2 separate regions of the Homo sapiens genome follow, and region 2 is linked to region 1. A link means that fine-mapping ties the variant in region 1 to the expression of a gene that starts in the linked region. Tissue or cell type: whole blood. Region 1 holds a variant in brackets; the other region holds the start of a gene. All regions are shown on one strand. Distances are from middle to middle.

Evidence for each region. PIP is the estimated chance that this variant, and not a neighbour inherited with it, causes the effect.
Region 2: KCNQ1 starts here. The variant in region 1 is fine-mapped to the expression of KCNQ1 in whole blood (TOPMed, PIP 0.99).

Annotation. Positions count from the first base shown.
Region 1 is chr11:2,845,236-2,853,334 of GRCh38, forward strand. It overlaps KCNQ1 (potassium voltage-gated channel subfamily Q member 1), which reads left to right. Exons shown (of 16, transcript NM_000218.3): 16 at 2,532-3,870. The coding sequence ends at 2,768. All of the region lies in intron 2 of KCNQ1-AS1 (KCNQ1 antisense RNA 1), which reads right to left. Among named protein-coding and RNA genes, the nearest start is that of KCNQ1-AS1, 12 kb to the right of the region's middle. The variant G/A (reference allele first, on the strand shown) is at 3,247.
Region 2 is chr11:2,441,509-2,449,607 of GRCh38, forward strand. It overlaps KCNQ1 (potassium voltage-gated channel subfamily Q member 1), which reads left to right and starts at 3,500. Exons shown (of 16, transcript NM_000218.3): 1 at 3,500-3,976. The coding sequence starts at 3,591. TRPM5 (transient receptor potential cation channel subfamily M member 5) reads right to left here and starts at 3,006. Exons shown (of 29, transcript NM_014555.4): 1 at 2,923-3,006. RefSeq lists silencers at 3,300-3,409, 3,420-3,489.

The DNA.
Region 1 (8,099 bases):
CGGCTCCCTACCTGACACACTGTGTCCCCCCATATGGCAGCTCCGTGGTCTCGAGATGGAGCCTTGGGGTGGGAGCTGTGGGGACAGGATGGGAGACATGGCACTTTCAGCCAGTGACTCTGACCCTCTTTTCCTGGGCCTCAGTGTCTGCATCTGTGGGATGGAGTGTGGGCCTCTGTGGCTCGTCCCCAAGTGGCTTTGCAGAGCACTGAAGTGCTGGCGGGTCCTTGGGTGTGAGAGACCCCGGTGGATGGCCCTGGGCCCCTGCCCCTGCCAAACCACAGAAGTCCTGCACCCCTTTCCTCCATAGTCTGGGCCTCACATCAGGTTTATCTGGGAAAAATAAAACATGGGGCTCCCTCTGGCCTGGACCGTCAGACCTCGGATGTACACCTGCCCTTGTGTTCAGGACAGTTGGGTCTCAGACTCACCCCATACCTGCAAGGCAGAACCACAGGGGAGCCAGGGAGCCTCCACACTGCAGCCCCCACCACCCAGGGCTGGAAGTGGGTCCCCTGGGCTCCTGCTCTGGGCAGGGCACAGTCCCACCCTCCCAGGTGGAGGCTGCCCACCTAGCCCTCTAGACAGACGCTCGGCCCCACTCAGGCAGGCGCCCCCCTCTCATCTCAGCCTCTCACAGCACCCTGTTGGCCGCCTCTTCCTTAGCCTGCTCAGCCTCCGTGGTAGGTGCTGTGGGTGACGACCACAGCACCCAGCCTTTGAAGCTGGCCCGGGTCCACCCAGACCCTAGCAAACTGGTTGCTCCCTCTCTGGCCATCCCGGGGCTTGTGCCCACGTCACCCAGCAGCATCTTCCCTGGGGTTGTCTCACCCGCACAGAACCCAGCCCTGGCCCACACCTCACCCCAAGCCTATCCGGCTGGATCAGCAGTGGGGCCGGGCGCATGAGGGACCAGGCCCGCCCGGCGCAGCCTAGGGTGCAGACCCCTGGAGTGCACGGCCAGGTGGACCGGGCCAGCTCCCGCCTGCTGCCTGTGCTTAGGGCCAGTGGTTGACGTTGCTGTGGCTGAGTCATCTTCGTGCCTCTCTCTGGAGCCATACGTTTCCCTGAAGCAGCTCTGCTGTTCAGCCCTTATCGCGTGCTGATCTGTTTGCCCCTCCCCCACCACTTCTAGGTCTTTCCAGGCCTCCAGGTACCCACGGTGGGGGAGGGTCTACTTCATTCTCCACAGAGCACGCTGAGGGGCTCTCCTGCAAGAACACCGCAGGCTGAAGGACCAGCCCTGTCTCCTGTGGCCACCAACAGAGCTGTGCGCCCTCCCCGAACCCTCACTCATGCTAGGGCCCCCAGGTCCAACCTCCTAGGGAGAGGGGTCCCCAACCTGGACTCCCTCACCTGCCCTAGTCTGCCCCTGGGGTTGGCCCTGCTCCACCCAGCACCTGCTCTGAGGGTGCCAGGGTGCCGGCCTGCCGGCCAGGGCCTTCCAGTCTCCCCATCAAGGCTGGATGGCCACTTCCCACCCGGGGCGGGCTCCAGCCTCATTCCCCAGCGGTGCTGTCCTTCCAAGGAGCTCTCAGATCACCTGGCTGTCCACTCGTTTGGGGCTTCTCTGCTGCCTCCGCAGCACTGCGAGGCCTCTGATCACCTACTCTCTGTGCTGGGTGCATTTCGGGTTCTGTCCTGCCTTGACCTCCCTGCCAGCTTTGCAGGGCAGCCACCCTGGCACATAGCTCACTGCAGAACCAGCCCCTGAGAAGGTGGAGGCCACATGGCTAGCCAGAGGGCACGCTCTAGGGCACTGCTCTGACCACAGAATGTGGGTGCAGATGGTGTCTGGGAAAATAGTGGTGTCCCCGCTAGGTTAAAGACATGGCATAATGGTTCCTGGGGGATGACAAAAAAACCCACCCCCACCCCCTTGCAGAAAGCATCACAGAGGCACAAGCCCTGTGCCCTGCAAGCCCCTCCTGGAAGTGGCCCAGCAGGGGCATCCCCTGCACACCCAGGCAAAGCCCAAGCCCTCTGCCTCCTCAACCACCCCAGGCCCTGCCCATGAGCCAGCCTTGCTGAACTCTGCCCTCTGTCCAGTTCTCCTCCAGACACAGTAGACATAGCCCCCAGCCTTTCTTGACCCTTAACCCAAATGTCCCCAAGCCTGGCCTCAAGAAGCCAAAGGCTGCCGCAAACCCAAATATTTCAGGTCCGGGTCCCTGGTGCAGACCCTGCCATGCGGGGATGTGGCACAGAAGGCCGGCCAGCCTGGGGAGCAGAGAAGGAGGAGAGGAGAGCTCCTGGCCCTGAGCCTGAATGCCTGTGGACACATATAGGGACTCCCAGCACGCACGGGATGGACTCCAATCGGCACACATGCACATTCCTTGCACACACACAGGCGCGACCGAGGGCCTTGCAGACATAGGGTGCACACGTGCGTGCCGCCTGCATACAGCATGCACTTGCAGAGACGGTTGGCACCTTCCCTTCTCTGGCCCCAAACCTGGGCCCTGAGGCTGTCTGCACACCTGGGTGCTTCCCACCACTGACTCTCTCGTCTGCCTTTGTCCCCGCAGGTGACGCAGCTGGACCAGAGGCTGGCACTCATCACCGACATGCTTCACCAGCTGCTCTCCTTGCACGGTGGCAGCACCCCCGGCAGCGGCGGCCCCCCCAGAGAGGGCGGGGCCCACATCACCCAGCCCTGCGGCAGTGGCGGCTCCGTCGACCCTGAGCTCTTCCTGCCCAGCAACACCCTGCCCACCTACGAGCAGCTGACCGTGCCCAGGAGGGGCCCCGATGAGGGGTCCTGAGGAGGGGATGGGGCTGGGGGATGGGCCTGAGTGAGAGGGGAGGCCAAGAGTGGCCCCACCTGGCCCTCTCTGAAGGAGGCCACCTCCTAAAAGGCCCAGAGAGAAGAGCCCCACTCTCAGAGGCCCCAATACCCCATGGACCATGCTGTCTGGCACAGCCTGCACTTGGGGGCTCAGCAAGGCCACCTCTTCCTGGCCGGTGTGGGGGCCCCGTCTCAGGTCTGAGTTGTTACCCCAAGCGCCCTGGCCCCCACATGGTGATGTTGACATCACTGGCATGGTGGTTGGGACCCAGTGGCAGGGCACAGGGCCTGGCCCATGTATGGCCAGGAAGTAGCACAGGCTGAGTGCAGGCCCACCCTGCTTGGCCCAGGGGGCTTCCTGAGGGGAGACAGAGCAACCCCTGGACCCCAGCCTCAAATCCAGGACCCTGCCAGGCACAGGCAGGGCAGGACCAGCCCACGCTGACTACAGGGCC[G/A]CCGGCAATAAAAGCCCAGGAGCCCATTTGGAGGGCCTGGGCCTGGCTCCCTCACTCTCAGGAAATGCTGACCCATGGGCAGGAGACTGTGGAGACTGCTCCTGAGCCCCCAGCTTCCAGCAGGAGGGACAGTCTCACCATTTCCCCAGGGCACGTGGTTGAGTGGGGGGAACGCCCACTTCCCTGGGTTAGACTGCCAGCTCTTCCTAGCTGGAGAGGAGCCCTGCCTCTCCGCCCCTGAGCCCACTGTGCGTGGGGCTCCCGCCTCCAACCCCTCGCCCAGTCCCAGCAGCCAGCCAAACACACAGAAGGGGACTGCCACCTCCCCTTGCCAGCTGCTGAGCCGCAGAGAAGTGACGGTTCCTACACAGGACAGGGGTTCCTTCTGGGCATTACATCGCATAGAAATCAATAATTTGTGGTGATTTGGATCTGTGTTTTAATGAGTTTCACAGTGTGATTTTGATTATTAATTGTGCAAGCTTTTCCTAATAAACGTGGAGAATCACAGGCTGGGCTGGGCACTGCTCTCACCTTGGTTCCTGGGGCATCCATGGGGTCTCTCACAGACAGGACCCCTGCAGTTCCCCTGGAAGCAGTGCCCAGGTGGCTGTGGAATAGGAACGCTATGTCCGTGTACTGAGGAGTAGGTCAGGGTTCAGAGGGGCTGCAAGATGCCATCGAAGGCTCTAGCTTAGCGACGTCGCTCCTGTTCTGGGCCCTGGGCTGGCCCTGGCCATGAAGTGCAGTCACAGTGTGGTCACTGCCTGTCTTCCAGCAGACTCTATGCCCTTGCGGCAGATGGGCTCTGTCTGGGCCTCTCTGTCTGCCCCTCCCAGGCCAGGGTGGCCCTTCATCAAGGACCCACATGCTCCACTCTGGGAGCAGGCCCCACCCAGGCCCATTCCCCAGGATGCCAAGGGCTAAACTCTGGAGGGGTTGTGGTGCAAGGAAGGCCTGGGGCCCCTGAGGCTCCCATATGCTCACCCCTGGCCTCCTCCGGGCCTCTATTTCCCCATTGGTAACACGATGCTCCCTTAGCCTGTCCAGTTCTCTGAGTGGGACAGAGGGGCCACCACCCTGCTCGCCCTGACCCTGTTCCTGCAGCTTTCTGTGAGGCCCGCCTCTCCTAAGGTGGAAAGAGTGCCTCACTCTCGGCACAGACACACTCAACCGGGGCAGGTGCATCTGCTGTGCCCCCACCTCAGCTATTGGACCGTTTCTCAGTCCTTCAGGACTGCAGCCGCCTTCTGTCCTCTTTCCAGAGCCCATCCCGAAGTCTCAGGATATGAGGGCTTGGGGCATCTGAGATATCAAGGATGGGGCTGTCCTGAGTCCACTGGGGGCAGGAGGCGGCCAGCAGCAGGTGGCAGGGACAGGGGCCCCAGGTTTCTGTGTGGAGTAGGGGTGGAAGCCCTTGTTAGAGGGAAAGGCCCTGGGTCCCACCTGGTGCCAAGCCCACTGGGCCCGTGCCCCCAACCCATGGGTCTTGGCATCTGGCCTGGCCAGCACTGACCGGGATGGACGAGGTGGAGGGGCAGCACGGGGCTTCCCAGGCTTCCCTGGCCTGCACCCCTCCGGGAGGAGCGGGAGCAGCAGTTACTGAAAGGCAGGAACTGTTGTTTCCTTGTTGGGTAAATATTTGTGGAAACCCGGGGATGCCGGCCGGAAAGCAGGGCCCTCCACAGCGCCCAGGCCCCCCAGCCCCGGCCGCCCACCCCGGGACCCTGGCCCACAGGGAGCTCCGTGGGGCCGCCCATCTGGGCCGGGCGCGGCCCCGGCACCCAGCCCGCCTTGTTGTCCATATTATGGACTGCGCACAAAGTGCCCGAGGACTCCTCTCCTGGACGGGCCATTGCAGCCCTCTCGGGTGTGAAATGCAATTTACCTGAAATAAAGCCCAATTATGGAATTAGCTAATTAAAGCCATGGCGGAGGCTGGGCCTGGCCGGCCGAGTGCTCAATGCCCGCCGGTGCCCGTGGACTGAGGGAACAGATGGCGCCTCGGCCCGCCGTGCCGGCCGCATTCCTTCACTCTGTCCCCCGATAAGTGACCTAGACAGCACACGACCATCTGGTGTGTGGCACGTCCTGCGGGCCCCGGACAATGGCCCGGCAGACCTCTCTGCGAGAGGGCCGTCGCCCGGGCAACGGTGGCATGTGCAGCCCCGACCCATTCACGGCCCCTCCCGCAGCCCCTTTCTTCGGGCCCTTTGTGGCCTCACCGCGGCTGCCTGGCTGCTCTGGCTGAGGATAGCCATGAGTGTTTGTCCCCAGAGCCGGCCTTTGTCTCCAAATTGGGCTCCCTTATTGAGGTCCTCGGGGTCCAATGGGTGCCAGGAGCATCTGCTGGGGGTGACTGGGGGAGGGGCTGCTCCTGCTTCCTGGGGCACCCACCTCCTCTGCCAGGCTCTCCTCCCCCGTTGCCTGCCCCCAGATGTCCCCTCGTGGGTGCTGGGCGTGGCCATGGGGAAGCCCGTCTCTAGGGCTGGCACTGGCCAAGCCCGAGGTTCTCCCATCTTCGGGCCAGGGAGCCAGGAGGAGGAGGAGTCAAGGGCGGGGCCGACCTGCAGCCCCTCAGCTCCCACCCCAGTCCTGTCTGCGAAATGGGGAACAGTAAAAGTGCCCCCTAGAAGGGGCGTACGGGGCAGGGGCTTGATGGAGATGAGACATGTGAGCACACAGTAGGTGCTTAATAAAGGAAGCCAAACAAACCACCTGGGTGGGTGATACTGGGCTCTGCCTCCTTGCTGCTCTCCTGCCTGTTGCCTCGGAGCTCCTTTCTGAGGCCCCTCCTGCATCTAGCCTTACCCCACCAAGCTCCCTGCCCCTCGGTGCCAGGGAGAGCTGTCCAAACCCAAGCTGGCAGTTCCCCATCCTGCTCTCAAGCCAACCATGACTCCCCACTGCTGAGTGGGCCTGTGAGGCCCCACAGGCTGCAACCCTGCCACTCACCCTGGGCATCCCCCGCCATGAGCCCAGCTTCCCCATCCTCACCCTGTACTTGACGTCCAGCCCCCCTCCCTACTCAGGACCTCCTCTGAGCACCATCTTGGCAGGCAGTCCCCCACCAGCGTGGTGGTCAGGAGTCAGGCCCACCACTGGGAGAGGGGCTGTGCTGGGCCTTTGAGGCCCCAAAAAGGAGCCGGGGCTGGCAGTGCCTAGTACAAGCCTGGCCCCAGCTGGGTGCTCAGGAAGTGCCAGTTAAATTAAGGAATAAAATGAAAAGTTGGAAGGAGGCTGCCCAGTGCTGCATGTGCAGCAGAGGTACCAGGACCCAAGCAGGGCATCACCAGGCGTCCCTCCAATGGACAGGAGAGGGGTCCACACCCTGCGCCCTGAAGGAGGGATCAGGCCAGGTGTTTTGATCTGGGGCAGCCAGACAGCTGGGGGAAGGAGCAGGAAGGCAGACAAGAGCCAGGGCTCCTGGGGCCACCACACACAGCACCCCCATCTCCAGGGGATTTGCTGAGTCACCTGCAGGGATGAAGACTGCCCTTTCTCAACTATATCAAGTCCCTAATTTGGAGTGCCCATCTGAGCTGTGCCAAAGCCTGCTCCCCCCAGCACCCCAGCCTCCTCTCAGCACAGCCCTCCGGGCTCTAGGACCCAGGGGTTCCTTGCGAATCTTTTTTTTTTTTTTTTGAGACGGAGTCTCACTCTGTCTCTCAGGCTGGAGTGCAGTGGCACGATCTCAGCTCACTGCAAGCTCCGCCTCCCGCCATTCTCCTGCCTCAGCCTCCCGAGTAGCTGGGACTACAGGCGCCCACCACCACGCCCGGCTAATTTTTTTTTGTATTTTTAGTAGAGATGGGGTTTAACCATGTCAGCCAGGATGGCCTCGATCTCCTGACCTCGTGATCCGCCCGCCTCGGCCTCCCAAAGCGCTGGGATTACAGGCATGAGCCACCGCACCCGGCCTCCTTGGGGATCTTAAGCGTGTCTCAGCCTCACCATTCTCGGCCCCCAACTGCACCAACCCCGCTCTTGCCTCTGGCCCTATTCTTGTGGCCCTGGAGGGCCAGCTAGTTGGGAGATCAGGCCTGTGGCCTGTGTCCCAGCACCCTTCACCTTTCCTGTCCCCACCCAGGTCAGCCAGGGTCCCAGGCAGCCAGGCCTGGAGGATGCTTGGGGCAGCCAAAGCCAAACAGAGCTTCAGTTTCCACTGGCCTCTGAGTGCAGACAGCCGGGGCCAGGGCCCCCTGGAAGCTGACAGGTCCCACCCCGGCCCTTCCCAACTCCACTGTGGAGCCTTGGTGAGGAAGCCTAGAGGGCCCTCAGTCGGGCAGTGCAGGAGGGCTGGGGGCTGCCACCCCAGCCCAAGGCCTTAGAGGCCAAGGCCCCAGCCTGTCCCACCCAGGCACTGGCTGGGTAATAGGAGGCGGGGCATCCACTCTGCCCTCAAGATCCTTCTCCCTCAGTAGGTCCTGCTATGACCTCCTGGCCCTCCTCTTCAGCACCCCGTACCAGGCCTCCTACAACTCCCCTCCCCTGCAGCCCCCACAGCTCAAGGCACCTGAGTGAGGCAGAGCGTAAAGGAGATGGACAGCCTGGCCCAGGGCAGCCCTGCTGGACTCCAGGAGATGCTTGGGCCCGCTCCCCACTCTTCCTTCTAGACCCTCACCCATGGCTCCCAGAGGGGACGAGGCCGCCCTTAATTCCCAGAGCCAAGCCCAGCCCCACCGCCCACCTATCCCCAGGCTTGGGTTTCGCACACGTACAGGCAGCGAGCCCGAGGCCCAGGAAGACACAAGCCGGGCCCAGAGGTGGCCATGGATGGCTCAGTGGACAGAATCCATCCTGGTGCCTTCTGGGGCCTCAAACACACAGCTCCTTCCACTTCCCGGGAGTGG
Region 2 (8,099 bases), 400 kb before region 1:
ATCCCCCTTCAGCTCCTTGGAGCTTGCAGGGAGCTTGAAGACAATCCCTTGTCCAGTCTCTCTCCTGCCTCAGTGTCCCCAAGCCAATGGGACCCCATACCCCCAGAGCAGCAGGCTGTGGCACAGCTCAGGGCCCAGGAGACAGCCCTGGGGGCCTCCAAGAAGCCTCCCTAGTGAGTTATTAGAATTTTTTTTTTTTAGATGGAGTTTCGCTCTTGTCACCCAGGCTGGAGTGCAGTGGTGCGATCTCAGCTCACTGCAGCCTCTGCCTCCCGGGTCCAAGTGATTCTCCTGCCTCAGCCTCCTGAGTAGGTGGGATTACAGGTGTGTGCCACCACACCCAGCTAATTTTGGATTTTCAGTAGAGGCGGGGTTTTACCATGTTGACCAGGCTGGTCTCAAACTCCTGACCTCAAGCGATCAGCCTGCCTCGGCCTCCCAAAGTGCTGGGATTACAGGTGTGAGCCACTGCATCCGGCCTAGAATTTTTAAAATATGGAGGCTTGACCTGCCTGACCGCCCTGCCTTTTCACTCGTTTTCAGAATAATGAGCAAAGCAACCTGCAGAAGATCAAATAGGATTTTTCAGTATTATCATGAATGCATGGGCTTTTCAGCTATTTGATGTGTTTTCATCCATGACTCTTTCTGATGCTCAAATTGTCCCATTGTTGATCAGCCCCTTCTCAAACTTGACAATGAACAATAGTAGGATATACCTTTTTCCTAAGATAAAATAGCTGAGGAGTCTATGCTAATATAGTCCATTCAATTTAAGGACTGGTTTGTACTTCTTTGATTTTTTAAATCTGTATCACTTTTATACTGAAAATCTTGGTTCCAAAGGAATTTAGCATCATTCTTTGATACACACACACACACACACACACACACACACACACACACACACACAGAGTTCTTTGGGATCCTTTGGTTGAGTATTAGTGATCATATTGATCATGGCACTCCATCGTGTGACTGTACCACAGCACAGCTGAAGCGATTGAAGGACATTGTGATTGTCTCTAGACTTTTGCTAATATAAAAAATGCTGTTTTGACTATCATTATGTATATGTACTTTTCTATTTTTCCTACATATCTTTGGGTTATTTCCTAGAAGTGGGGTTTCTGTGTCAAATGATACATTTAGTAATATCGCTAGGTCTCTTTTCTACCAGTGATGAGGAGTGCACCTGTGCCTGCTGCCTCTCCCACAGAGTTGCCATCAAAAGTCTGGATTTTTGCCAATCTGATAAGCAAGCAGTGGTATCAGAGTGTACTTTTCATTTGCATTTTTCTTGTTATAAATGAGGTTGAACATTTTTTCATAAGTGCAAAGGTCATGAACCCCATTTCCTATGAACTGCTCATGTCTTCTGCTCCCTTTTCTATAGGACTGTCTGGCAGGTTCCTCACCTCAGTTTTGATGTTCTTTATGTATCAGTGATATTAATCCTTTGTGATCGAAACTGCAAATACTTTTCCCATTTGGTCATTTGTCTCCTTTACTTTGCTAATGGTGCTTCTATTTTAATTTTTCTTATTTTATCTGTTGCTTTTGGATTTCAAGTCATAGTTGGAAATGTTTTCCCGATTCACAGGTTCTTGAGGAATTGACCTGTACATTCTTGTAGAATTTGCATGGCTTCATCTCACCCTTTACACTTGAGCCTCTGATTCATTTGAGATTTATTCTCGTGTGCGGTGAGATGGACCCAAGGTATGCTTTTTCTTTCTTTATGACTGTCCAGTTGTCCAAACGCTGCTTATTCAAAGCTCACCTTCCTCCTGCTGAGGTGGGAGGGGAAGGCAGAGACTCCATGCAGGTGTATGTATGTTCACCCGGAAAGTAACTGCTGAATGCGTGCTGTGTGCCCTGCAGAGCTGACTGACTGCCCCCATCTTCTGACCCGCTGCCCTTCTGCACCTTCACTGATATGCTTCCCAGGAAGGTACCCTCTCCTCGGCCTCCCTTGTGTTATCACAGCGCCCAGCACAAGCTGGGACCCACTCCATCCACTCTTGCTGCAAATACAGACTGTGCACTCCTGTGTGGCACCTCACTAGGGTGGGGAGTCAGGCGTCAAGGGCCTGGGCTGGACTCCGTCCACGATAAAAGAGCAGACTTTTGGCAGGGGGTGGTAGATACATCAAATTGACCCAGGGTGCTCAGGGACGACCTGGAAGTGTCACATGAGTTATGGGTCTCCTGGCGGGGCGGAGAGTCACCGCTGAGCTCCACCTTTAGTCCCTGCCTCAGGGCTGTGTGCAGTATCCTGAAAAAAGCCGGTCTCTTCTGTTGGCTGCCCCCCACCCCCCCCCCAAGCCTGAGACGTGCTGAGACCCAAATGCCAGTAGCGGGCGGGAGGCAGTGCAGAGACCTGTGAAAATCTTCCGATGTGACCAACCCACCCCCACCCAGGGGAATCCACGGGGCGCAGCGGCAGCGCGGTCTCGACGGTGGGGAGGACAAGGCGCCCATTCTCCAAGTTACTAGGGTGGCGCAAGCGCCTCTCCCTTTAACTGCCCAGGCAGCCCCGCCTGCTATGCCCGGCAGTCAAACCAGGTCCAGACCCCGGCTGTGCCGCCCCCACCCCCCAGCAGCCCTGCCGGCTCCCCACCCACACAGCTCCCACTGGGAGGTACCTGACAGTGGTGGTCCCATCTCACCCTCCCGGTCCAAGGGCCCTGGTGGGAAGCGACCCGAGCGTATTCGCCGCCCGCAGCTCGCGCGCCTGGGCACCCGGGGGCGCTCACAGTGATCGCGGGGCCAGCACACCCTCACCCAGGACATCCCTTTCCTCCCCCCAACCCCAACTCCGGAGTGGCTCAGAGGGAGGGAAAGTAGATGCCGGCACCCTACCCCGCCCCTCCTGCCCCCGCTGTGCCGTTCTCGGTCGTGGTATCGGCCAGGCCTTACCCCTTCCTCCCTGGCGCAGCTGGGGTCCTCCTCCGGGCCAGGCAGAGCAGGCGGGCATCAGAAGTGGGGGCCAAGCAGGTGGGTGAGGGCAGGGCAGGAGCAAGCAGGGGAGATGCAGACGGGGCGGGGCCAAGCAGGTGGGTGAGGGCGGGGCCAAGCAGGTGGGCGGGGAGGGGGCGGGGCCAGGCGGGGTAAATGCACACTGGAACGGGGCCAAACAGGTGGGCGAGGAGGGGGCGGGGCCAAGCGGGATAGATGACACGAGCGGGGCTAAGCAGGTGGGCTCGGGCGGGGGTGGGGGTGGGGGCGGGGGCGCAGGCGGGGGCGGGGGCGCGGACAGGCCAAGCCAGGGGGTGAGGCGGAGGCAGGGCCAGGCCGGTCCGTGGGGAGAGGGCGGGCCAAGCCGGTGGGCGCGGGCAGGGACGCCCTGTGCGCGCCGGACCGGCGGGGGCGGGGCGTGCAGGCGGGGGCGGGGCACGCCGTCCCATGGGACCGGCCCTCGGCCACTGCCCCCTCCGGCCCCGCCCCGAGCGCCCGGGCTGGGCCGGCAGCGGCCCCCCGCGGCGGGGCTGGCAGCAGTGGCTGCCCGCACTGCGCCCGGGCGCTCGCCTTCGCTGCAGCTCCCGGTGCCGCCGCTCGGGCCGGCCCCCCGGCAGGCCCTCCTCGTTATGGCCGCGGCCTCCTCCCCGCCCAGGGCCGAGAGGAAGCGCTGGGGTTGGGGCCGCCTGCCAGGCGCCCGGCGGGGCAGCGCGGGCCTGGCCAAGAAGTGCCCCTTCTCGCTGGAGCTGGCGGAGGGCGGCCCGGCGGGCGGCGCGCTCTACGCGCCCATCGCGCCCGGCGCCCCAGGTCCCGCGCCCCCTGCGTCCCCGGCCGCGCCCGCCGCGCCCCCAGTTGCCTCCGACCTTGGCCCGCGGCCGCCGGTGAGCCTAGACCCGCGCGTCTCCATCTACAGCACGCGCCGCCCGGTGTTGGCGCGCACCCACGTCCAGGGCCGCGTCTACAACTTCCTCGAGCGTCCCACCGGCTGGAAATGCTTCGTTTACCACTTCGCCGTGTGAGTATCGCCACCGGCGACGGCCGGCACGAAGGTGCTTCCTGAGAGCTGGTGTGGGGGAGCTCTGTCCCAGCGCCACCTGCCCCGTCGGAGCTGCGACCCCGGAGCAGAGGAGGGAAGGAAGTGGGGAAACGCAGAAACACAAACTCTGCACTCTCCCTTGAAGTTCAGAGGCGCTGCTGTGTCTGGGGGTGCGCATCTTCTCGCAGGCCCGGCGTGGGGAGGGAGCCGGCTGGGGAGGGGACCACCTGGAGCCCAGAATTTGGCTCCACACCTCCGGGAGGGTAGTCCAGGTGTGAATCCTTCTGGGAAGAGAAGCGTGCTGGGGAGCGCACCCTTGGGTGCAGTAAGATAACTCCTCAAGGTCGGCTGAGACTCGAGGCTCAGGAGCCCCCAAGAGAGAAGGCCCCTGATGTCCGGTGCCGCATCTCAGACCCCCTGAGGCCCAGGTGGACTCTGGGGCAGGGGGCTGTCCAGGATAGGAAGGTGACGGTGGCGGTGCTCCCTGAGGGCTCAGCATGCCACGGGCCGTCCCCACGGGCCCCACATTAACTAATTGAACCAAGCTCATGAAAACCTGGCTTGATGCAGAGAGCGGAGAGGCACGTTTGCAGCTCTCACTAAGAGGCAGCTGTGCTCCCGGAGAAAGCAGCGCTGGTAGCAGAGGCACCTGGCCCCCCTGTTACCAGGTGGTTCCAATTCCCGGTACAGCGTGCCTGAGCAGGGCTGGGCACTGGATTTCTCAGGGACAGGCCTGGGAAGTCACCTCCGGGAAGGTCCAGGCTGCTCTCCTCCATGCCTGCCTGGGGCCTTCCCCCGCTGCCCCAGTGGCCCTACTTCCTGGCTGCCCAGCCAGCGGCCTTTTGGTGTGGTGCCAGCCTCTGGCCTGGGAGCCTCTACCCAGACATCCCATGGCTGATGGCTGTGGGGCTCACCTGAGGGCTGAAGGGTGGTCTCCCTGAGCGTCCTCAGGTGGAAGCATCTCCTCTGCCTCGGGCAGGCTCAGTAGAGAACTGGCTGGAGGGCATCCAGAGGCCTGTCCATGCCTGCTGGCAGCTGCCACCAGGGCCTCAGGGCGGGTGACAGCAGGAGCCAGGCCCCAAATGGCTTCAAGCATCGTCTCAGGTGAGGGGGTGGGGTAGGGGTCGCAGGGCTACTGCCTTCCTTGCTAAGAGGTGGCCTTCCACATCAGGAAGGGGAAGTCTTACCCACCTCCCTCCTCAAAGATGTGGTTGGGGGGTGATCTTGGAGACTTTTCCCCACCCCAGCTCCCAAGCCCCTGTCTCCTGACATGTCAGTGGGTGCCTGAGCCACAGCCGCTGCTGGTCTGTGAGAGGAGCTGGCTCTGCTCGTGGCTGCAACAGCGGGGGCTCGGCTTGGGGTTTGGGAGATATTTGTGTGCAGTGACCCCAGGGGAACCCAGTCCGATGCCACTGTGCAAATGTCTAGCAGATGCCAGGTTCACAGGTGCTGTGTGCTGGTGGCCACCTGCCTCCCGGACCCCAGACTCTCTGAGATGTCCAAGGGTGGGAAGACCTCCTCAGCCAGAGGCCAAGGCAAAGTGCCCGCAGACCCCCTCAATTCTCACTTGTATTCAGGTTTGTGGACACATGCCTCCGGGCTCACTGCAGCCACCCGTGTGGAGGAAGAGGAGGAAGAGGGCTCGCCACGCCCCAGAGGAAGTCTCTGCTTGCACTTGTGTTTTCTTCCTCATTTGGATTGTTTAGGTCTCGGAAGTTTGCTCAGCAAGAGTCTACCTTCGCCCAGCCTCCGCAGAGCTGGCAAGGCAGGGGTGGCTTCTGGGGACAGGGGCAGGATGGCTTCTGTGAAGGGGTGGCCAGGAAAGGGATGCTTCTGTGAAGTGGCCAGATCTGGGGCTGGTCCTTTCCAGTTCTGGGTCCTGTCCTTGTAAGACGTGTGCCTGGCCCTGGGAAGTTGTCATGAACAGCCTCCAACCCAGGTACCTCCATGTGGGGTGGGACTGGAGGTGGACCCTGACTGGGCAGGACATGTGGCTTGGTGGGGGCCTGGGAGATGCGCTCCCACCCTCAGTGCCCTAGGAGGTTGGCAGGACCAGTCTCTTGAGGGGAGACCTGGTCATAGAACCAGGATGGCAGAGTAGCTGGAGGCCACCTGCAGCCTCACGAAATCAGGTCCAGCCTTGCGCCAGTCCAGCCTTGTGTTGCTGTAAGAAGTCTTGGCAATGGTGGCGGAGACAGGGCCCTGTCCTTAGGTGGATTGTGAAATGAGAAATATTGTGGTTTCTGGCCTGAAGACGACAAGCCTGGCCTTGAAGAGCCAGGGCCCAGGCATGTGTGCAGGGGGGTTGAGGCAGGAGCCGGTGTTCCGCTGACCCTACAGGGCTAGGGCGAACTCTCCTGTGTGCGCCTGGGGAAGCCAGCCAGGATATCCTGTCCCCTCCTCGGGGAACCCCCCCTCCCCAGGAGAGCAGCTCTTCCTGTGTTCCTTCTGGCCTCCCTGGGCTGGCCGGGGTGGACACGGCACCTGGGCCACAACTCTTGCCCGCTTAGGCTTCCTGCCCCCAACACCCCCAGTTATCTGTGGTTGCTTGCGCCCCCACTGGGGGCAGCTCCCATCTTAGCTGAGGGGATGGGGGTCCATACAGCCCTGCTGCACCCAGCGGTCCTAGCTCCCTTGCTGTGAGCCTTAGCCAGGGGTGTGGACATCCAGGTGGCATCTACTCTGGTTGCTGAGATGCTTGGAGATCCTGGTTGTGGCCAAGGAGAGGGATTTGAGGGGGGACCTGCAGTGCATGGAGACTGCCCCTGTAGGCTCTCAAACCTAAGTCTGGCTCAGCAGCCCCTGTTCCCCGCTCCTACAGCCTTGGCTTTCCCTGTTTCCCAAGAACTTTCCAGGGGTGTTGGCAGAACCCTCGCGGGTGCGTGTTAATCAACAATGGAGCCAGAAGCAGGTCCCAGAGGTGGATGGGGCTGATCTGGCTGCCTCCCCAAAAGACAAGGCCATGCAGAGCCAGCTCTCAGGGTGCAGCACCCAACTTTGTGGACTCCAGTGCCCTCCTATCTCCAGGCTCTGGCATTGGAGTCTGAAGCAGCTGCTGGGCAGTTGTTCTGCAGCTGGGCAGGGAGGCCAGAGGCCAAGGCAGGTGGTGGGGCTGGGCACAGAGGAGGACGGGGCTCTCTGAGCCATCAGGTCTCTTTCTCTCCATCTTCTTTAAGATCTGTCCACCCACTCCTCAGCCCTAGATTCCCAGGAAAACTGGGAATTCCTTTTGGGGCTTTTCCCAGTGCTACCTTCTGTGGGGCATGAGCCCTTGGTCTCATCCCCTGGCTGTCTGGGGTCCCCTCACCTACATCGCAGACCCGGCCCAGTGTTTCTAGATCCGCTCTTGCCAACATGTCGAGTGCCTAACTGTGGCTTCGTACTAGTTGGGGGGAACACAGGCATCCCTTACCCCTGGCCGTCAGCTGGGGAGGGGGTAGTCCAGGTGGCAAGAGCCTAGAGCCTGGGAGAAAGGGCCTCCCCAGCCTGTGTGGGGACAGGGGATCAGGAGGGTGGTAGGGACTTGGGTCCTTGCAGGTGGCCTGGGCAGTGCCTGGTGGGCATGGATCAGGTGGCAGGGCTTTGTGTCTGGGCATGGCCCTGTGGCTGGGCTGCCTTGGCCAGGGTCCTGGGCCTTCTGAGTCTGCGTCTCATTCTCTGTGGCAGGCTCCTGGTGCTGGCACCTTCAGTGCAGGGTGCCTCGGTTGGAGGGAACATTCACCCGTGCCTGGCACTGAAGCCACAGCTCCCTGTGGGCATGGTGCCCGCAGCTTGAGCCTACAACCCTGGGGTACTGGGGGCAGGAGGGTCCCTTTTTGCTTGGCAGTTGCGAGGTACTGGAACCTTTGCATATAACGTGCGGGCTGCGTTGTGTCACAGGGCCGGGTCTGAGGGAGGGGCTTTGCGGGGACACTCCTGGGTACCGATGGGATGAACTTCCGCTGGGCCTGAAGGCCTGGGATGCTTTTGGGCCGGCCAGTGCGGGGTCAGGTGGTTGGAGCCAGGGAGCTGGCACGTCAGCTGCTGCTATGAGTTCTGCCACGTGCCATCCTGGCATGTGGCACGTCTTGCAGAGGACAGGAAGGGTGAACAGCTCCAAACC